Regions from separate parts of the Homo sapiens genome. Here region 1 is linked to region 2. Evidence: fine-mapped expression QTL. Tissue or cell type: spleen. Region 2 holds a variant in brackets; the other region holds the start of a gene. All regions are shown on one strand. Distances are from middle to middle. Region 1 holds the start of MAGEC3 (MAGE family member C3). Region 2 overlaps MAGEC3 (MAGE family member C3).

Evidence for each region. PIP is the estimated chance that this variant, and not a neighbour inherited with it, causes the effect.
Region 1: MAGEC3 starts here. The variant in region 2 is fine-mapped to the expression of MAGEC3 in spleen (GTEx, PIP above 0.99).

Annotation. Positions count from the first base shown.
Region 1 is chrX:141,832,657-141,844,083 of GRCh38, forward strand. It overlaps MAGEC3 (MAGE family member C3), which reads left to right and starts at 5,660. Exons shown (of 8, transcript NM_138702.1): 1 at 5,660-5,782. The coding sequence starts at 5,660.
Region 2 is chrX:141,873,125-141,884,551 of GRCh38, forward strand. MAGEC3 (MAGE family member C3) reads left to right here. Exons shown (of 8, transcript NM_138702.1): 3 at 6,051-6,307; 4 at 8,279-8,672. Among named protein-coding and RNA genes, the nearest start is that of MAGEC1, 25 kb to the right of the region's middle. The variant T/C (reference allele first, on the strand shown) is at 6,255.

The DNA of each region.
Region 1 (11,427 bases), 40 kb before region 2:
TGGCTGCATTTCCTGCCTAGAGGAGGCAAGTTGATGCAAAGGAAGAAGTTATCAGACGTGAAGTCAGAGTTGCGTAAGCCATGGAAAGAAACTTGAATTTTTTCTAACTTCAGTGGACAGAGAGTTTTAAGCAACAGAGGTGATTGAATTGCTTTGCAGTTTTGAAGTATCACTTTGGCTTTACTATGGAGACTTCATAACCACTTCACATTGCTTCTGTCCAATTCACATCAGGTTTATTTCTAAGAATTAAATTTAGTGTTACTGTTGTTGCTGTGTTGCTGCTGCTGGTTCTTTTATCAATGTGACTTTTTTCTCATTGCAGTTACTAAGTAGTTATTGTTTAACTATATGAAATTAGTTATTAAAATAATTTTTCATTTTACTCTGTGCTTTTATTGATGCTGCGACATCTTCAGTTGGTATTTTTAGACTTCTGCAGGTATAATTTTATATTATCTGCAAATAATAATTATTTTTCCTTCTACTTTCTGACATCTGTGATTATTATTCTGTCCCTTGATTGAATGTATTGTCTGACACTTCCACAGGAACGTGAAGTACTAGTTCTCACAAACTCCCTTGCTTTGTTCCCTATTTAAAAGCAATACTCTTTGTCACAGACTGCTAGTTATTCCACAAACCCTCCTTCAGTACTAGAATACTTGATGTTTAGCTGGGTGCGTGAATGACCAGACTACATTTCCCAGCTTCTTTTGCAACTCCACTTGGCCATGTGACTGAGTTCTAATGAGTTGTGAGTTGAGATGTGCCATTTCCAAATTTTGCCTTTTAAAGGAATAGGTGTCTGTTCCCATTTTTGTTTATATCATCTGGTAAATTTCAGTCAAAAATTTTTACTTTCAACTTTTCTGAGTCACATTGCTTTGGAAGTTTTGTGTTTGTTTGTATAAATATAATGCTATTGGTTATTATCATTAATTTGTCTATGAGTCTTCTCATTAAGTGGGGAGCTGATTTGACTTACATATTTGTTCTCGTGTGTCATCACATTAAGTTTTTTTCTCTGATTTTATTTAGCCTGTTTTGTTTCATTTCTTATCTGAAGAATACCAAAGATCTCAACTAATTTTTATTCTGCTAAGTTTTTGTTTTATATTTTTAAAATGCACATTCAATTTAAAATTTTCAGATACCACTTTTAGAGCCACAAGAGTTTCTTTAAATTCTTCTCTATGAAATATTAATAGCCACATCTGATGCTTGAAACCTTCTTTGTATTTTCTCAGGGATTTATAAAACTCCCACAACCACTTTGCGAGACAGGAACGTATTTTATCTTCAATTTGCAGGGCACAAAGCTGAAGTCGAGAAGAGTCAAACATTGAGACAGGGTCACATAAATATTTCTTGTTAAAGCTACATTCAAAATAAGTTTTGGCTAGTTCTTAAGGCCAAAATTACAATAAGTTAAAGTGAAGAAATGATTACTTCTTCCCAAAATCAGTCCCACAGTGAGTAAGCCTAATTCCAAAACAGTGATCCTAACGTTGGATCTGTTTTCACATATTTATGAAAATATGTTTTTATGAATACATCTATATATTTATAAAATCTCTTCATTTCCTGTGTAGTTTTAATGTTTCCCAAGCCTATACTTTAAATTACTAAATTTTTTATAGGGTTGATTATGTTCCTTATTGTTTCCTATTGATTTTAGAGTTATTTTTTAGTTTCTCCACTTGTTAAATATCTGTGGTCACTTTTGTTCTTCAGCCACTACTGCAGAACCTGGCAACAAATACTACTTAGCTAGTTGTCTTTGCTTGCTGTATTCCTGTTCTCTTCCCTTCTATGTTATAGAGCATTTTACATATTGGTGCTATGCTGTTATTATTTGTTTTTCTTCTCGTTTATTTTGAATTGGGGCCATGGATTGTCCCCACTGCCAAAAATAGATGAATACGTTTTCCTTGATATCTCTGTTCTAGGAAAATCTTTGACTTAACCCTCTCTCTCCACTTTGAACAGTGGTTCTCAAACATGGATGTGAAAAAGTACAGAGCATCAATCACCCCTCCAGACCTACTAAAGAAATCTTCCAGTTGCAGCTTCAGAATCTGTCTTTTTTAGCCCAACTTCCAGAACTGGTCTGCATATTTTTTTGGACCAATGCCTTGAAACATGCACCGAACAATTTGCACATTTATTGTTTTTATTCTTTGTTCAGTCATTTAGCTCCTTTATGGGAACAGGGGGCTTGGGGGACAGTGAGGAGATATCTGGGGCTGTGAGTAGTTGCAGTCAGGAAGTTTTTTTCTTAGTTGTTGGTTTGTTTCTTAGTTGCTCAGTTTGATTTTTTGGCTCCTATGCACTGGCATCAGCAGCACCGTGTTGGGGGCATGCTCTCATCTGTTGGTGAAGAATGGCCTTTTTGTGTTTCAGTTTACTCCCTCTCAAAGTGAGAAATTCATTTTCATAAAAAGTCCAGGGTTGTTGAGGTTTTTGTTTTGTTTGACCCTATGTATTTTTCTGTGCAGAAGGCTGTGGCTATGATTCTCAAGAGATTGCTTCTACTTCTCTCTGATATTCTGTCTGTTTAGAAGGAAGATAAACTACAGGTTGGCAGGTAGTTAGGGAGGCAATCACATCGGTTGTATGGCTTTGCATCTTGTCCAGCATTTAGTTTCTCAGGAATGCTTATTTGCAGTGGAGAAACAAGCTCCACACAGTGCAGCCTACACTTCCTCCAGATCTGCTCAAGTCTAATTTCCTTGCTTCTTCAAATTGGAATATCTGGACCAAGGTAGTGATAGGGGTTATATATTGATTTTTGAGTCTTCTTTCAATCTGGGCCAAATTATACTGGATCTGAATCATACCTCAAGAATTATATTGATTAAGACTCAGTTTTGTTTCAAGTTTCAGCATTGATGAATCCTTTCTGTTCATTTTGGTTAGTCACAGGGTGAGAGGTTTTATAAGCCAACACTATTTCCGCTTGCTTTCCCATAGCTTATTCAGTATATTGAAAAATTTTCAGGAAACAACAGCAAAATCCTACATAATATTCCTTGTTGAATATCAAATTTCTGTTTTTGACTTTCCATTGGAATAAGTCAGGAATGTCTACGTAAGACAATGCTTGAGGGTAAAAGATGAGTGAATGCGGAGATCTTTGTGAGATTGAGATGGCTGGCATCAGCTCTGAAGCCATGCGATCATTAATAGTAAGTTTCTGCTCTGCCATTTACAGATGCTGTAATCTGAATCGATCTTTCAATTTGTTCAAAATTCAGTTTTCTTTTAACTTTGTAAAATAAAAATAACTCTTGTTACTACATGTTGGGACATTTTTAACAGATTAAATGTGATAATATAAATCTGAAGTATTGAGCACTGTACCTGGCATAGAATGAGCTCATTATAATATCAGTCTCCTTATTCTTTCCCTTGTCTAACCATCAGTGGTGAGAAACAGCTGTTGATTTGCCAAAATATATGCATAATTTTATAAATGAAAACATCCAAAATCTCTTTGGGTGGCCTATTAAGGAATGAGCTACAGGGTTTTTCACCTTTATTACTATTGACATTTTGAGACAGATAGTTCTGTGGGCTTTTTTGAGGGGGTGTCATCTTGCTGAATTTAGAATGATTAGCAGCATTCCTAGTTTCTATTCAATAGATGCCGATAGCACCAAGAGCCATCCCAGTTGTGACAACCAAAAATATTTCCAGACTGCAAAATGTCTTCTTGGGATGGGGTGCAAAATCACCCCCAATCTGAGCACTACTGAGCTAGAGGAATGAAAAGGACATTGTGTTGGAAGAGGGTAGGGACTTAAGCTTTGAAATGTTGTTCATAGCTTGGAAGAGGCCCACCTTAGCCGTTTCTGCCATTGGGTGAACTAGGCTTTTTGTGCCTAGGTGTTAGTGAATGGATGTCAGAGCAGAAGGTAGGAGACAGGAGAAGAGTCTTCTCTATTTAGAGGGAATGGAAAAGATGCAGGGCAGTGTCAGAAGGTTTCAGATCTCTCATGAGCAAATGCAAAACTTCTGTGTTCTCAAGACCGGAAACACATTTCTCAGCCAAGGGAAGAGGCTAATTGAGAGGAGTGATCGTGGCTCTTCTTCATTTTCTTAGTAAGCTCCTGAAGGTGGCAAGACCGCAGAAAAGCAATGCATTTAATACCTCAGGGACTTGTTAGTGCCTGAAATTGAACATGGAGGCATTGGGATGATTTCATTGTGCCTCAGAAGTTATTAAACTGAGTCAGGCAAGTCTGCACTCTGGCTCCCCATGTGCAGGTGCAAGCAGTGGCCCCAGTGGGGATCCGAGGGCAGTTCCCTGGCTGGTGGGGTAATGTTCCAGGCAGGAACACAGCTGCCTCTGCTGCACAAAAAATCTGCCTGAAAAGTGGGAGGCAGCAGGTTGTAATAAGCCCCACTCAGCTCCCACACACTTGGCAAGTCAGTTTTCATACCCACAGTGTTCTGCTAGCAGCAGCAGCTAACTGGGTTTCAAGTGGCCCGTGCTCAGAATTTAAAACCATCCCAGGCCATAAGCTTTCCCTATGGACACAGAAACCATATCTTTCAGGCTGCATCCTTTCCAGTCCACCTGTGAAGCAGGGCCATGCAGCTCATGTGCCTTGTTGCCGTAGCACACTTCTCACTTGCCCCTCGGTTCTGGCCAATCAGCTTTGTCCTTACTAAGGATTATATCACAAATCCCAGTTGGGCTCTTCTCTCAAACTGTGACTGCAGCCTGAGTTAGACTTCTGCAACGTCCCGTGAGGTGGGATCAGGAATGGCTTCCCTCCATTCTTGCTGGAATCTGGGTCTGCACACAAAGCATGTCCCGATGCTGCTCCTTCTTATATATTCCTTACTTTTCACTGAATCACCTCTAGAGCTGAGTAGGTTTGAAGTCCTCCCTCATGACTTGTATTGCCTGGCTCGCCTGTGGGAGTATATGTCATGACAGCAATCTATCCCTCTCTCATGCTCTGGGGACTAATGGTTTTCCATCTGTTTTATGATGTAGTCTGTTGCCTGCCACTTCATTCAAAGGGTCTGTGGTTTCTTTCAGTTTTTCTGTTAAGTTCTTACATTGTTTCTTCGAATAAATTTTACAGCATGAATCTCTACATGCCATTTTGTCTTACCAAGTGGGATAAGTATGCTTATAATGCTTCCAATCTGCCATCTTGGAAAAAAAGAAAAAAAAAACTTTAAATATTTTGTCTGTAATGTGCTATGGAAGAGACCTTTTCACATTGTATCTGTTTAGGAATTGATGGGCCTCCTGTATCTCAATGTCTAAGTGTCTTGCTCGACTTAGGAAGTGTCATCTATTATTTCAATAAATAGGTCTTTGAAAACATGTTTTCTCTCTTTGCCTTCTGGGCTATCAGTGATTTTTATATTTGGTCACTTTATGTTGTTAGATAGATTCCAAAGGTTTATTTTATTATTTTCTTTTTTTCTTTATTTTTGTCTGACAGCGTTATTTCAAAAAAAACTGTCTTCAAGCAAAATGTGATCTTAACATAAGTCAGTTATGATTGAGTATATTGTTGAAGCTTTCATGTGTATTTTTTAGTTTATTCACTGCATTCTTTGGCTCCAGAATTTCTGTTCGTTCCTTTTTTATGGTCTCTATCTCTTTGGTAAAGACAGGGTGGCAGTGGCCATGCTGCTGCCCTGCCACTGGGTGTTGGATGCCACCTTCAGTGATGGCAGTCTAGGCCAGTGGGTGAAAAACACATGTGCCACATATGCCTTATCCCCAGTGGTGCTCCCACCTCAGCCCCAGGTGTGGTAGCCCATGAATGCTCATGTCTAAGCCCCAGGTTAACAGCCAGCTCTTCTTTTGCATCTCAGCCTCAGTGTTGCTTGGCTCCAAGACAGTGTGCAGTCTGTTGGGGGTGAGGCTCTAAGATGCTATCTTGCCCAGCCTTGATGTTCATGTCTTTCCCTTGGTTGCAGTAGCCTGTGGTCGCTCATGTCTGAATCTCCAGGGAAACATCAGACATTTAGTTTGCACCTAGGCCTCAATGCCACTGGGCTCCAGGACAGTATGTAGTTCATCGGGGGTGAGGCTCTGCAGTGGTGCCTCATTTGTGCCTCAGTCCTAAAAGCAGCAGCCCACGCCTTCGTCCCACCTCTGCACCAGATGCTGTAGTCTGTAGTCACTGATGCCTATGTCCCTGGGGCAGCAGTTCGTGCTTCTCTTGCACCTCAGCCCTGGGCTACTGGGCTCCAGGACAGTGCTCAGTCTGTTGAGGGCAGGGCTCTAAAATGGTACTTTGTTGTAGCTGCTTAAGTCTCAAGAAGTGTGAGGGACCCAGCGGGAGCTTTCTCCCTGAAGCAGTGCCATCATACAATCTCCTGGCAGCTTTCTATGTTAGTTTCGGGGCCCATGATGGTTGAAGGGATCTCCTGTGGCTGGGATTATAGGAGTCTATAGTGAGAATGTAAACTACTGAGGCTCTCTCACCTATCCTTTCTCTGTATTTGGAGTCTCTCAGCTCACAGCTGATCCTGGATGAGCAGGCTGCCTTGATTCCCTCTCCATCTCTGCTTTAAGTATTGCCTATCACTTTTCTAATGGATTCCAGTGATTTCCTTTGAATTATATATTCAAAGTGTGATTATCGACTCACCGTTTGGTTATTTTTAATGGAGAAAGTGAGTACAAAATGCCTCTAGTCTGCCATATTCATGGTTTCCAAGAAATAATTTTTAAAGGTTTTTAAATATTTTATGTAATTATAATGATTATGGGCATAAGAAGGATTATGGAGAAGAACGGAGCAAAATAAAAGCTTCATTCACTCTGCTGTCATATTTGATTATATCTTGAGGTCAAATTGATCTTTGCTATTGTCTTGGCTGCCGGCTCTGGCTACAGCTAATCCTGGGCAGGCTTTGCAGCTCCTACCACTTCCAGGCCCACAGCTGCAATCCCAAGCTTGCTCACCAAAACAAGTGTTTATTCATTATATCTTCAGTAGATTTTATTTTATAAATATGAATTGTTTATATGCATTTCTAATATGTCAAATGCTTTACTAGCTTTTTAATATCTTTATATCCATTTTCCCTGGATCATTACTTACTGTTCTTAACTCAGTGGTTCTTAACTGGAAGAGATTTTGCCACTTAGGGGATACTTGCCAATATCTAGAAATATTGTTGGTTGTCATAATTGGTGGCAGCAGGGAATGCTACTGGTATTTAATAAGCAGAGACAGAGATGCTTCTAAGCGTCTTATTGGACAAAGGACGACCTCACACAAGAAAGAATTATACTGCCTAAAATGTGATGGTGCTGACAGTGAGAAACCCTGAGTTTAACATAATTTGCTCAGAACTCTAAAAATGATTCACTTTCCAAAAATTTGCTGCATTTTTTCTTCTGGTCAGAATGTGCACAATGGAAATTCTTCCTGAAGGATTTGTGTGAGGAGACCTATTCTATAGCTGTTAAATGATTGGCAGGGAGGTTGATAGATGGAGGTGAAGTCAGCCAAAACTTAACTGATATTTAACAGCCAGGAAATACCCAACCTGGAAAGTATTCATTCATAGCATCACAAACCACTAAAGAAAAGTGATATTTTACCTCTGAGAAAGTTAACAGCAAAAGTATAGTCTTTCTAATTAGTTTTTAGCTTGCAATCTAAATAAATGACAAGTAGAGAATATCAGGTCATAAAATATCATTTAATTTTAAGAAATATTTTCATAAGAATATTGACATAAAAGTGATTTAAGAAAGTGAAAGTTACATTTAGCACAAGATTTTGCATTTTTCAAAAGTATATGATATTGGAAAAACATATAATTACATATTATTTTGAATTTGTTCTATGTAGCAAACTTTGTTCAGACCTCTTTAAGAACATTTCATAAATTTGGCATCATTACTAACATCTCCATGTTAAGAAGATTTTCACAGAAGCAATATTTTCTTGTGTCTCTAAATGGGAGAGAGTGCCTCTCCTCACTAAATTGCCATATTAAAGTGGACTGTTCAGCATTTATTTTCTTCAACCATTCTGTCTAAAATTCAGCCTGATGTATTAGCATTAGCATGAGTCCTCCTGCAAAATTGGTCAGTGGGTAGTTATGCTTTTGTGTGTTTTTCACATCAAAAAAAAAAACCCCACAAGAACAAAAACAAAACAAACACAAAAATGCTCAGTAAATAGTTAATGAATAAATTGTTCTATTCAAGGGGATTGAGAATGGACCTTGCTCCACTGCTTCTTTTTTTTTCTGTATTTTCAACATCTGCCTTTCTACTGGCTAATTAACTATAGTTTATAAATATGTTTAATATTAAATAAAAATTTAAGTAAGAGGAAGCATCAGGAACCACTTTAAAGGTGAATTGTAAAAAATAATGTGATAATAACTTCACTCTGCTTTTCCTTCTCACTTCTTTTCTTCTTTCTTCTTTTCTTTCCACTTAAGCCTCACAAGAGTGAAGCTTCTTGTCTGTCTCTTCTTACTTACCAGTCACTCTTTCTTCAACCTGGTGCTCTCTGACTCCTGTCTCTACCACTCAAATAAAGCTGTACTTTGCAAGACCATCAAAGCCATTTTAATTATCAAATCCAAAGACTCCTTTTGGATATTTCAGGTCTCCAAACAAATTGCATCTTCTTAAAGAGGAATTTCCTGACCACCTGAGTTAAATCTCATGACATTCGCAAACATATTGCCGTATTTTACATTCTTGATAGTCCCTAGTACTTGATCAAAAAGCTATCTATAGTTATTATACATATTACCTGGGTGATGAAATAATCTGTACACCAAACCCCCATGACACAGAGTTTACCTATATAACAAACCTGCACATATATCCTTGAACCTAAAAGTCAAAAAATAAGAAATCAACTGTAGATATTTGTTTATGTGTTTATTTTCTTTCTGCCCCCACTAGCATAAAATATTATTGAGGGAAGGGACTCAGCCTTGTCCACCAGATCCTAAATGAGACTTAGTAGACACATATTAAGCATTCAAGTAATATCTGTTTACTGACTGGGACTGATCAATTTGCCTCTTACCTGACCTCTCTGGAACATTTGTCAATGATGACCGTTTGCTTCTAGATGCCCCTTCACGGCTTTTGAAATAGTACCCTTCCTTTTCAGTCTATTTTGCTAACTTTCCAATATGATGTGATCTGTTTGAGAAAAGGGACTGCTATTAGCATATTTGCTGGCACATGAAGGACTCGCAGAACACTCATAAAACATCCTTCTATTTGGGCTTCAGTATGAAAGATCTTAACCGAACTGTGTGTTTAAAATGATGTGTATTGAAAGAAGTATTATTTTTGGGCCACGAAAATGCCTAAATATTTCTAGTGTGATAATTAGGTATTGAGAAAGTTGGAAGTGTATGAATATTTAAATTGCTTAATAGTATGAACTGTAGTGTTTTGGTACTTGGTTCATACAATTACTTGACTGAATGCTGTGCAGCCATTAAAATTATATTACAAATTATAATATTAAGATAAACTTAAATTATTTGTTATAAATTAACAAGGCACGACACAACATTATGCATAAAATATAAGTACAACTTTATAAGATGTATGCAACAATGAAAACTAGCAAGGAATGAAACTTGCTCATTTTTTGTTTCAATGATTTTGTTGCATTGTTTCAATGAAACAATGAAAATTATAACAGACTGTAGTAGCAGCTGAGTGATTTTATGGAATTTCAGATGTCTGTTCTTACTTTTCCAGATTCTCTGTAGCCTTTTAACTATCGTATATTTTAAAAACAATTCAAAGCTGAATACACTTTAAGCATCCTGTATAACTTGGAATGAACTTGTGATGAAATGTCAGAAGAGGTTAGTGGTAGGTGTTGTCACGTTTGTTCAAGAAGGAGAGGTTAGTGGTAGTGGTGGCATCTTTGTTCAAGAAAGAAATACATCCCCTTTTATTCATGGCCTTTGTGATTTTCTTTGTGTTTAATGTATTCCACAAGTAGATTCTCCTCTCAAGGTATCGCACCCTGGAAATATAAATAAAGACTTAAATTACTCCCATGAAAGTGACTTCTTCTAGCCCACACAGTGAATCACTGGCAGACCCGGGAATGAAACCTCTCAATTTACACTCTTAGACTTCATAAACATCCCTAAAACACTTCATCTCTCCTACATTGTTAGCTATATAACATTGTTAGCTCCTACATTGTTAGTTCTACATTTATTAGACTATAAGTCTTATGTTTTCCCTTTGATTGCTATTGCTCTAGGTGGCAACAAAAGTCATTCTAACTTCACTTATAAGAGCCAGGTTTGTTTGACACACACATTGTGGAGTTCATTAAATTATTGCTTCTTCTCTGTCATTTATAATTTTGAGAATAAATCTACGTTCTTGAAATTTATTGCACCTGCATTTGCAGAGGCATAGAGAAATGTGGCAATTTATTCATAAAACGCTTTATCATGTAAATGAATGATGGCCAGTCTCTAGTTCACAAGATGATTAGAGTAACAGAAAACACACAAATTCCAGCTTTATACATACAACAGCTTCAAGGCTATGTAGTTAGAAAAATATGATTGGAGGGTTGATCTGAGTTTAATGTATGAATTCACAGCCTCTGCAGGCTGTCCCTTACTCTACAGGAGTAAGGCCATCAACCTGTGTTATAGAAGCTACTAGGCCGGAGTACATCTTTTTGTCTCTGCGCACAAGAATGACTTGCTATCAGCTAATTTAGACAACCCATATACTCCCTTATTAGTGGCTAGCTACATATTTTTGTATTGTTTCTGACTTGAATAAGTTTATTGTGCATACATTGTCCAATTATAGCAACCTTGAGCTGGAGAGAAAGCTCATCTTCTCTAAAGAATACGTGTGAGGGAAAAATAAACTTCCTTCAAACTATATATCACCCCATGAACAGAATGCTCCTCAAGCAGGTATACAACTCCAGAAGAAATATCAGACATTCTCTTAAGAAATTGAATGACTCAAGAGCAAAAACTTTGATACCATTTAGATGATTGCCAGCATAATCCCTACCCAGATAATCAAAGGCAAATCCCTCTGATTAGTAAGCCTTGCCCACATACCAAGCGTGCCCCCATAGGGTTTTTGATGTTAGTTTGTTTTCATTTTAAATATTCAAAAGAGTATATATAAGTGCAATGTAAACAAGCAGACAGACACCTTCAGAAGTCTTAAGAAATATAATATTACCATTAAATTAAAAAGCTTTCCATGTGCTCTCCTCAAGCGCATCCCTTATCCAGGGATTGCCACCACGTTGAACTTTGTAGTACTTATTCCCTTTCTCTTCTCTTTGGAGTGTATGATGTTAATATCCCTCAACAATATATTTTGCAGTTGTCCCTGATTTTGAAGCTTATACGTATCATGTCATACTGTGTAAGTTATTCTGACAC
Region 2 (11,427 bases):
GAGAGGCACTCTTTCTTACAGACTAAGAGCTTTTAAGGATTTAGGGTGGGAGAGGTTATCAGAGGCTTGGACTGCTTTTGTGTTTCTTTGTTGTGCTTATCTGGGAGGGACAGTTTTGTATCTGTTCCCATACCTCTTCCTGCAGCTGCAGGCATACTCCCTGAGTCTGCTTTTAGCTTCCCAATCTTAGTGCACCTGAAGGGAAAGGAATGTGCTTATTAAGGCGCACTGTTTTACTGGGGCCCATTGTATGAGGGTGAAGTTTGGCAGTTACCTAAGATACTCCCACCTCCTCCACCACCACCCCAACACCCATACCCAAGCTGTTTTATCTGTGTTTTACTGTCTGCTCTTTCTGGCTGCTTGTTGTCAAAAGAGAAGTGATTTCCTTGAAATGCATGAGGCTAGAAAGGGAGCTGGAACTTAAAGTGGCGATGTTTGTCCAAGATGACAGTGCTCCTGCTCTGTCAATAGTAAATAATATAATTGGGTTGTGTGATTCCTCCAACTTCACTGTCTTTTTAAAAATTGTTTTAGAAACCTAACACAGTAGGCACAAGGTCTGTATAAAGAAAACTATAAGACTCTAATGAATGGAATGAAGGGATATTCAATTTTCAAGGATAGAAAGACTCATTATTGTCAAGATGTCAATTCTAACTTGATCTATAGATTGCCTAAAATCCCAGTCAAAATCCTAGCATGTTGTTTTGTGGATACCAACAAACTTATTTTAAGGACTAAAATATGTTTTATGTGGAAAGGCAAAAGACTAAGATTAGCCAACACAATATTAAAGAAGAAGACAGTGGGAAGACTAACACTTCCCAACTTCAGGTCTTACTATAAAGTTACGATAATTAAGACAGTGTGATATTAAAGAAATAATAGACAAAAAAGTCAAAGAAATGCAATAGACATCCCAGAAATAGACCTACAGAAATATAGTCAACCAACTTTTGACAAGGAATCAGAGGCATTTAAATTAAGAATAATCTTTTCAGCTAATTATACCAGAACAAGTGGACATCCACATGGAGAAAATGAAGTTAGGCACAGACCTTAAACTCTTCACAAAAGCTCACATAAATTCAATCACAGACCTAAATGTGAAAATAAAATTTTAAAAAACCTATGAAACACATAGAAGATACCACAGGGGAAAACCTAAGTAACTATGGTTCGAGAAAACTTCTTAGATACAACCCAAAAAGGAACATCTGTGAAAGAAAAAATTGATAAGTTTGGCTTCATAAAAATGAAAAAATTCTGTTAAGAGAACAAAAAGGAAAAACGAGAAACGAGGATAAAAGTTTTGCAAAAAAAATCTGACTGAAGATGTGTATCAAAAATATATTCAGAACCCTCAACTCAATAACAAGAAAGCAATCCAATAAAAATGGACAAAAGATCTGAGTAGATACACACTACACCAAAGAATATATACACATTGCAAATAATCATGTAAAAAGATGATTAGCATCTTATGTCACTAGGGAATTACAAAGTAAAACAGGATACCACTACACATCTTTTAGAGTGGCTAAAATCAAAATGCCTGAAAATTTCAAACACTCAACAGGAGGCTGAAGAACAGGTACCCTCAGTCATTGCTGATTTTAATTTGAAAAAAAAATACACTCACTCTAGAAACAGAATTGTATTATTCTATGCATTTTAAATCTGGAAATGGTAAAAAAAAAAAAAGTAGATAAAGAAAACACACTAAACACACTGTTTTTGCTGTGATTTGGGTAGGGGGTGGTGGTTGACTATCAAGGTGAAGCAAGAGAAATTTTAGGCTAAAAGAAGGGATCTCTATGACATTTTAGTGGTAGATGTAAGACTCTATATTTGCTATGATAAATAAAAATGTTCATTATAGTGAACGCTGATCTATACAAAGTTTTAAAAATCAGCCATGCATTGGGTTTTCAAAAGGATGCTGAGAAAAGAATGGATTTTACAGGACTGAATGTGAAAGGAGAGGCACCAGCAAAAGAGGGTTTGTCTTAGTCTAGGTGAGAGATGAACCACAGAGGTAGTAATGGAGATCAATTGAAGTGGAGGGACTTCACATGGGTTTTAGAGGTTGGGGTAACAAATGCTGCTGTTGGATTTGATAAAAATTGAGAGAAAGGGAGGCATCAAGTATATCAAAACATGTGCCACCTATAGCAAAAAAGTCACATTGAGCTATTATTTTTTAATAAGTTGTCAGCCCTCATGTTTATTTTATAACTTCTCTGAACCACACACAAATGCTCCTTCTTCCTTGAACTCAGGGAATGCCCTCCCCTCCCCCAAACCTGTGCGCAAAACATCTATATTCATGGCAACTATGGTAAATCTTCGGTGACAGAGGCAGCATGTTCTTTGAAGGCTGAATCTACGTGAGAATAAGGAACTGAAGGTGAGTCATTTGGGGCATGTTTGGAAAATGGTTGTGTTCACTCCTTTAAAAGGTCCCTGACACTCCCCATTGATTGAATCCCAAGAACGTTAGTCCCTCTCTCTTCTGGACAGGAGACTTATTTCCAATACCAGGAGGTAAAAGAATAGGTTTCCATTTTCTTTTTATCATCCATAAGAAATGCTCCCTTCTTGGGACCTCAGAAGAACAACTCCATGAAGATAATTCCCGAGGGCATGGGACCAGAGCTGGAATTTACCCACCAGCTGCCTCCCAGTCTAGGAGAAGAGCTTCCTTGTCTGTGGGTTTCCACCTTGAGCGCTGAGGTTTGGTCCACCAATCCTGGCTATGAGCAGAGTCCCACTGCCCCGGGACACTGAGCCAAAGCTGAAGAAGGAAGTCAGCTCATGAACGGCTGAGTTGATCCTGGCCATAGTCAATGAAGAGGGCCCCAACCCTCAGGGAAGTCTCTGGCAAAGCCACAAGTCAGCCTTTTTTGGAATCTCAGGGTTCCTGAATCCTGCTGAGGGTCCTGTCAGGAGTAAGAACAGCTGAAAGGAAGTATGTGAATCTCCTATCTATGTGGAGAGGAAAATAAACCTCTATTCCCATCACATTTGGGCAAACTGGCACTGCCTCTTAAGTCAGTAAAGTATTTGTGGACCTGGTCAGGTTTCTGTCATCAACACAACATCCCCCATTCATGACTTTCTGGAGTAGAACTGCTCACATTATATTTCTTGGACCCCCAGAGTTCCAGAGGTCAGCAGGAGGACTGGCCAAGTAAGAGGGAATTAATGCAAAGTTGTCCCAGGTAGCCTTCCCCCAGCCACTATTGAGATTTCAAGTCCTGCTCTCAGGAAGCAAAGGTTCATGAAAGCAGTCAGGCCTTTTATGGCTGAGACAAGGGGGCAGAAGTAGCTGCTATTTCCTGTGCTCCTCTTTGACTCTTATCTTACTTCTCCCTGGTACTGAAGTGACCAAAGACCCCAGCCTCTTTCAGTGCTTTCAAATCCAGCCTTACAGATGCTCTAATTTACTCATACTGCGAACTTGCTTAAAGATAATTTATACAAAGACTTATTATTCTAAGAATGTCTGTGTATTTCTGAGGTTTTTTATAATAAACATATTTTAAGGTAGGTTTTGAATTTCCCTGTAATTGTTTTTTCTGTTTAATATGAAAAAGGGTTCCACTTACATTAGGGTTTTTGTATGGATATTCTGTTGTTCCACTGACACTTATTTCAAGAAGACTGTCTCCTGTTCTAAAGCTGCAAGTTTTAAAAATCAGTTAAGCACATGTTTATACATGTTTTGTTGGTTTTGTTTTTCAGAACTCTCCATTCAGTTCCTTTGGTCTATCTGTCAATCTCTGCACCCAAATCTCAAACTCTTCATTATAGTAGCTTTGTAATTCTTACTGTCTGGTAGACTAATGACTCTTTTTCAAGTGTATATTGACTATGCTTGTCCATTTGCATGTCTTTATATTTTAGAATCAGGTGATTCACACATGCCTTCATGTCCAAAGCCCTTTGGCAGTTTTGATTTAGGATTGCAGTCGATCTGTAGATTCCTTTTTGGGAAGAATCAACATATTTAAAATATTGAATCTTCATGCCCATGAATTTATTTTATTTTATGTTCAGGTAGGTCTTTGTTAATATGCCTCAACAGCATTTTAATATTTTTGTCTGTAAAAATTTTTTGGTTAAGCTTTTTTAACCAAAAAATATTTTAACCAGCCATCAGCTGCCTCCCAGTCTTATTTGGTTAAAATGTTTTTGGTTAAATTATTTTCCTAAGATACTTGATATTTTGGTACTATAGGTTAAAATTATATAGTCTTTACTTTCATTTTCATACTCTTTCCCTGACAAAAAACGAAGTTGATATTCTTTTGAATATTGACCTTATACTAGCAAACTGATATACTATTATATATTGAATAAATTATCTTTAGTTGTTTTGGATTCTTTTCATGCACAGTCTAATCATGCATGAATCACAAACGCTTTGTTTCCAACTGGCCAATCCTCATTCCTTCATTTACTGCTCTTTGGATTACTACACTGGCTACTACCTCTAGTATAAAAAGTAATAGAAGTACTTGTAGCAGAAACTCTAGGTTAGGTCTCAAGTTCAAACTAGAGGCTTCCAACATTTCCTTAAAAGATGTATCTGTTGTAGGTTTTTCATGCATATCCTTTTATCTAGTTTGGTAACATTTTTCATATTTGATAAACTTTATGTTTAAATAATTTTAGATTTACAAGAAAATTATAACAATAGTAAGAAAGTTCTCATATGTTCCACACTCAATGCCTCCTGTTATTAACACCTTACCTTGGTAAGGTTTCCTAAAACTAATGAGCCAGTATTTGTACATTGTTTTTAACAAACATTCTTTATTTATTATTGAACATACTTCAGTCACATTTTCTTACTTTTCACGAAATTCTATTTTCTATGCCAGGATCCCCTAAGGATACTCCATTACATTTAGTTATCATGTTCCTTCGATGCCCTTTGGCTGTACCGGTTGATTGAGACATTTCTCGATTTTGAAAACATTGACAGTTTTGACAGTTTCGTATGGTTAGGTATTTTGTAAAATTGACTTTGACTGGGATTTATGTGATTTTTTTCTGTCATGATTTGATGTAGGTAATGTTTCCTGGAAGGATGAACAGAGAGGTGAAGTGCCGTTCTTATCATACCGACAGCACATAGTACCAACAAAATTTGTCACTGATGATGTTAACTTGATTACCATGGCATCATCGTGCTTTTTAGCTTTATTCAGGGTAAAATTACATTATTTTTTGCCGTATGTTATACTGTCATCATGAGAAGAACAGGGAGACCCAGGACCAGCCAGTAGTCACATGAAGCCTCTGAGAGATAACTGCAAGACTCCCTGCCCACAAAGAGAAGGATCCACAGAATCCAGCTCCACTGCTGCTGTCAGCCCTGGGAGGCCCTGGGGCATGGTGGCCCACTGTGGTGTCCCCCTGACATTTTAGAGGGTAGAAAGAGGAGAAGGCTCTGCCTAGGTGAGTCTCACTTCAGATCATGAGAGGTGAAGGGACTCAGGCCCTTCCAGGCATCCCCAGGATGACACAGAGGAAGGACTGGTGAGACACCCCTCCCAAGAAACAGAAGGACACACAAATCCAGGCCCTGTTTTCACCCCTGGGAGGCCTTGGGCAGGGCCCTCAGTCAGAGATGCTAGCGCTTTTCACTTCGTCTTGGGGGGCGTCTCATGGAAATGGGGACCTTGATCTGAAGAACATAGTCTCTGGACAGCAGGGGAAGGGCTCCCAGGCCATGTCAGGAATAATAACTGCAGGAAAACAGAGAGTCCTGCCCACCCCATTTTAGAAAAAGGACACCAGAGTCCTGCCTTGGGCCTGGGAGGCCCCACCCCACTGTGGGTGGATGTGATTCTCCCTCTCTTGCACCTTGCAGGTCTCAGGGATGGGAGGGGCTTATTCGGAGGTGAAAGACTCAGTTGCACAGAGGCAGGAAGGCCAGGCGGTTTCCAGGAGTCCAGGCACAGCCTCTCGGGAAGGCAGGAAGGGAACACCCATGACTGGTAGTGCCCCTCCCCTGTCCCTGTGCCTGCTGCCAGCTCTGGAGGACCCTATCAGGGTCCCCAGGTTTACAACTTTCTGACTTGCATTTTGGGAGTCAGCCGGAGGGGAAGTTTTCTCTGAGGAGGGCAGTTTCAGTTAAGCAGAGGGAGGAACCCCAGGACTGGCCACTCAACGAGAAGAGAACTCTGTGGAAGGACAGTGACCTTCCAACATGGAGGAGAGGCACAGGCTACACCCTT[T/C]CCCTTCCTGCCGTCAGCCCTGGAAAAAGGTTGTGGGGGGAGAAAGCGGGGAGGTGGGCAGGGAAATATGGACGAGGGCTTTGAAGTGAGGAGGAAAAGGTGGAGGGATACCGAGAGGTGGGCAGGAAGGGGTGGAAAGGGTCGGGGAGGTAGGCAGGAAGGGGTGGAGGGGGCCCAGGAGATGGGCAGGAAGGGGTGGAGAAGGGCCGGGAGGTGGTCAGGAAAGTGTGGGAAAGAGGTAGAGAGGTGAGGGGTGGTTCCTCCATAGAGAGGAGACCTAGCCCCACTGGGAGTCTGAAGTATTTGAGGCATTTTGTGAGAAGGCTTAATTGAGATCAGCAGACAGAAGACTCTTAGAACTGGCCGATCCTCAAGGTAAGGGCCCTAAGGGAGAACTGAGGGACCTCCCACCACAGAAAGAAGAAGCTCTTGCCTGCCCTCTACCTGCTGTGAGATTGTAGGTCGCAGACAGGAAGAGGGTAACCGAGGGCTGAGGGACACGTCTTCATGACAGAAGAAGGGAGGAGGTGCCAGCTCTCTAGGGAATAAATAGGAAGACTTTGAGAAGGACAAGGGGAAACGCCACCTCAGAGGACAGACTCCCAGAGATTCCCAGCATGCTCCTCCATATCAGCCCTCGTAGAGCTCCCCAGTCAGCTCAGGCTGAGCGGCAGCCCTCTCATTGCTGGGTGAGAGGTGCAGGGAAAGGGAAGGCCTTGGTCTGAGGGTCCCGTGGCAAATCAGCACAGGGAGCTGCCTCCAGTTGGCAGAGGGAAGATTCCCAGGCCCTGCTGGGGATAAGAGTGAGGACTGAGGAGTCACATGTGCATCAGAACAGATGTGAGGCCAGCCCAACTGCCCCCGTGGTAGAGTGCTGGGAGGTGGCTGCCACCTCACTACCTCCCACTGCTCTCAGGGATGTGGAGTTTGCCCTGAGTTTTGGCTAGAAGAGTGGTAGGGACATGGCCCTGTCTGAGAAAAGGTGAGGATGCTAATTAAATTCTGATGGGACCATGCAGTCCAGAACTGTGGGGCTCTGGGAGTCTGGTCAGCCCCAGCTGTCAGCCTTGGGAGGCCCAAGACTCTGCTTGCAGTCTTTAGCCTGAGGGGCTCCCTCACTTCCTCTTGCAGGTGCTCCAGGAACCAGGAGTTGAAGACCTGGGTCTGAGGCACACTTCCTAAAGTCAGCACAGCAGAGGAGGCCCAGGCAATATCAGGAGTCAAGGTGAGTGCACGCCCTGACTGTGTACCAAGGGCCCTACCCCCACAAACAGAGCAGACCTGGCAGCACCTGGCCATAGCCACCTACTGCCATTCCTGGTGCCTCAGGCTCTGCCTGCCAGCTGTGCCCCGAGGTGCTTTCTCACATCCTCCTACAGGTTCCCAGGGGACAAACCCCCTAGGATGGCAGGTGACCCGTGAGGCCCTAGAGCACCACCTTAAGAGAAGAAGAGCTGTAAGCCGGCCTTTGTCAGAACCACCATGGGTGAGTTTCTCAGCTGAGGCCACTTGCAGTGTCCCTCTCTCCCTCAGGCCTGTTGGATGCCATCATCCACATCCCTGCTCACACATTTACCTCCTGCTCCTAAGGAAGACGTTATGCCTGTGTTTTGAAATGTTCCTAGCGGCAACTTTGAGAAAGACTTCCAGAACCAAACTGTGATAGAGAACTTGGCAGATGCACAGGATTCCACAGAGGAGGAAGAGGAGAAAACCTCCTCCATTTCCTCTTCCTCTTTCTACTTATTATTCCCCTCCTCTTCCTTCTCTTCTTCCTCCTTCTCCTCCTCTTTCTCCTCTTCCTCCTCCTCCTCCTCCTCATCCTCTACTCTGATTCTTGGTGCTCATGAGGAGGAGGAGGAGTAGCTGTCTGCTGGGATGCTGCCTCTTCCCCAGAATCCTCCTGAGAGTCCTCCCCAGGGTCCTCTCCAGGGTTCCCTGTCCTGCTCCTCCTCCACTTTATGAAGCCCATTCAATGAAGAGCCTAGCAGCCAATAAGATGAAGATACAAGTACCTGGCACAGCTTGCCAGAGAGCGAGCCCTTGTTCACTTATACACTGGATGAAAAGGTGGACAAGTTGGTGCAGTTTCTTCTCCTCAAATATCAAGCAAAAGAGCCTCTCACAAGAGCAGAGATGCAGATGAATGTCATCAACACATACACGGGCTACTTTCCTATGATCTTCAGGAAAGCCCGTGAGTTCATAGAGATTCTTTTTGGCATTTCCCTGACAGAAGTGGACCCCGACCATTTCTATGTCTTTGTAAACACATTAGACCTCACCTGTGAGGGGAGTCTGAGTGATGAGCAGGGCATGCCCCAGAACCGCCTCCTGATTCTTATTCTGAGTGTGATCTTCATAAAGGGCAACTGTGCATCTGAGGAGGTCATCTGGGAAGTGCTGAATGCAATAGGGGTGTGTGCTCAGAGGGAGCATTTCGTCTATCGGGAGCCCAGGGAGCTTGTCACTAAAGTTTGAGTGCAGGGACATTACCTGGAGTAGCGACATGTGCCCAGTAGTGCTCCTCCACGTTATGAATTCCTGTGGGGTCCTAGAGCCCATTCAGAAACTAGCAAGAGGAAAGTAGTGAGATTTTGGTCATGTGAAACAATACCGTCTCTAGTTCCTTTCCAATCTCTTCCAAGGATGCTTTGAAAGATGTGGAAGACAGAGCCCAGGCCATAATTGACACCAAAAATGATGCTACTGCCATGGCCAGTGCAAGGTTCCGTGTCATCTCCAGAAACTTCTCCTGTCCTGAGTGAAGTATAGGGCCGTTTCTTACGTCTGTGTTTGAAGAGGGCAGTCAGGGTCCTAGGTAGTGGAGGGCCCGGGTGGGGCTTGAGGGAACAATACAGTGTTCTTTGCATTTCTGTTCCATATGGGAGAGATAGATTTACCTCGTTTCCTTTTGTGTACTTTTTGAATGATTTTCCTTTTAATAGTAGGTTGAATTAGCTTCAGAATATTATTTTATAAATATTAGTCACACATATATTGCTGTTTATCTAGTTTAAGAGTAACAGTTTGATATTTTGTAAAAAAAAATGGAAAAAGCTTGTCTCTTATTTTGTGATCTATAACAGGATAACATGGTATTGTACTAGGAATTTTCTTTAAATTATGTAAGAACTCAGCAGTTAAATAGTGGAACGAAATAAAGGATGGTGAATAGTTACATTTCCTTATCCCGTTTATACTGTTGTTCTTGAAAATTAAAGAAATAGACCTGGCTTTGCTTAGCTCATTCAAGAAAGTAGCAGAAATTAAATGTTAATAAATAAAAGCATCTCTGACGGCTTTATTTGCCTAACATTCTGTGAGCATTTGCTTGCGGAGGGGACTCTTAATAGTGGGGATACAGTGAAAAGCAAGAGTTATGCCTTACCTATAAAACAATAGAGTCTAGGAGCAGAAGCCATGTCAAGAAGGTGGTAAGATGCTCTCTACAATCATAAGTTTCAAAAAAGTGGGGAGGTGAGACTCCAGATGGAGTCTTCAAGTATAAAGTCCCTGAGCTAAGGTAGTGTGGGGCTTCGGGAAACTGCAGGTGCTTCTGTGGGAGCTGATTGTTATGAAGCTGGGTGGTGGCAGGGGCCAGACTCTCAGAAGGTGAGAGAAAAGCCTGCAATGGAAAACTGCTCTGAGCAGTTCCTTCTGGGTGGATGATGAGGGAGAGAGGAGTCTCCATGTGGGGAAGTAATGGAAGCTGTCTTGCAGCTCTCTAACTGGTGAGCTTGAACACAGTGCAAGGACTAGGTGATTGATACCCATCATTTGCAAGTGTTTCCTGAGAAATAAGGCGATAATTCCTTGAAATGCTGCCCAGAAGCTTCTAGGCTGGCACTCATTTTCCTAGCCTGGGAGAGCCAGAGTCCATTCCATTGAAAGGTCATTTAATTAGGTTATTTTAAATGTAATGTGGGCAACTGTAAGCAAGGGCTAGATTTTTAGTGGAGGATAAATAGAAATAGTTGTTTGGATGGATGAGCAAAGGGGAAGGTGAAAAGGAGTTGGTCCTTGATTCAAATTCAGCACTTTGATGTAAATTTTCAGTTTGGATAGTGACAATTCCATATCTATCCTGGGCATCTTCAAACACTCTCAAAATACTCCCACATAGGGTGGTGAGTAGAATCTGATTTGCCACATAATATACTGGTTCTAGGGATGTAATCTTAGGGTAAGAGATAGAGTTTTTGAGATCATCCTAATATTTGATATTTGTATTGGGATTTTAATATATGATATTTGTAGTAACATTGTTTGAAGCAGGCCACTGAAGAGATACACAGATGAATGAGCTATACCAGGTGGTCAAAAAGCAAAGCTTCCTTCATAAACTTGGTATATGAGATAAAATTTTGGAAATCACTTTGTAAATAAATTACAAGGAGCTGAATTTCTAAAAACAGAACAATAACAAAATCCTTAATACTGCTTAGAAGGTGACAAGTGTTCCTTGACAGACAGGCTAGCTCTGATGAGAAAAGAAAATTATGGTTAACCATCCTTCCATTGTCTCTTTTCTGTGTACCTGCCCCACAGGAAAATCTTGGTTTGCAGTGTGCCACAGGCACATGTACAGCTGTTCAGGAATGTTCAGTCATGTAGAGGGTATTAGAATCTCTCATGGTAGGATATTTACCGTATACCAAAAGCAGTGAGAGAATTCTCAGTCTAAAGAGATTGTATTGTGTGATGGTTAATACTGAGTGTCAACTTGATTGGATTGAAGGATGCAAGTATTGTTCCTGGGTTTGTCTGTGAGGGTGTTGCCAAAGGAGGTTAACATTTGAGTCAGTGGGCTGGGAAAGGCAGGTCCACCCTTAATCTGCATGGGCACAATCTAATCAGCTGCCAGTAGGACCAGAATAAAAAGCAGGCAGAAGAATGTAAAAAGGCTAGACTGGCTTAGCCTCCCAGCCTACACTTTTTTTTCCTGTGCTGGATGCTTCCTGCCCTCTAACATCAGACTCCAAGTTCTTCAGCATTGGGACTCGGACTGGCTTCCTTGCTCCTCAGCTTGCAGATGGCCTATTGTGGGACCTCACGATCATGGGAGTTAATAAACTCCATAATACACTCCCCTTTATATATACCTCTATCCTATTAGTTCTGTCCCTCTAGAGAACCCTGAGTAATACAGATTTTTGTACCAGGAGTGGTT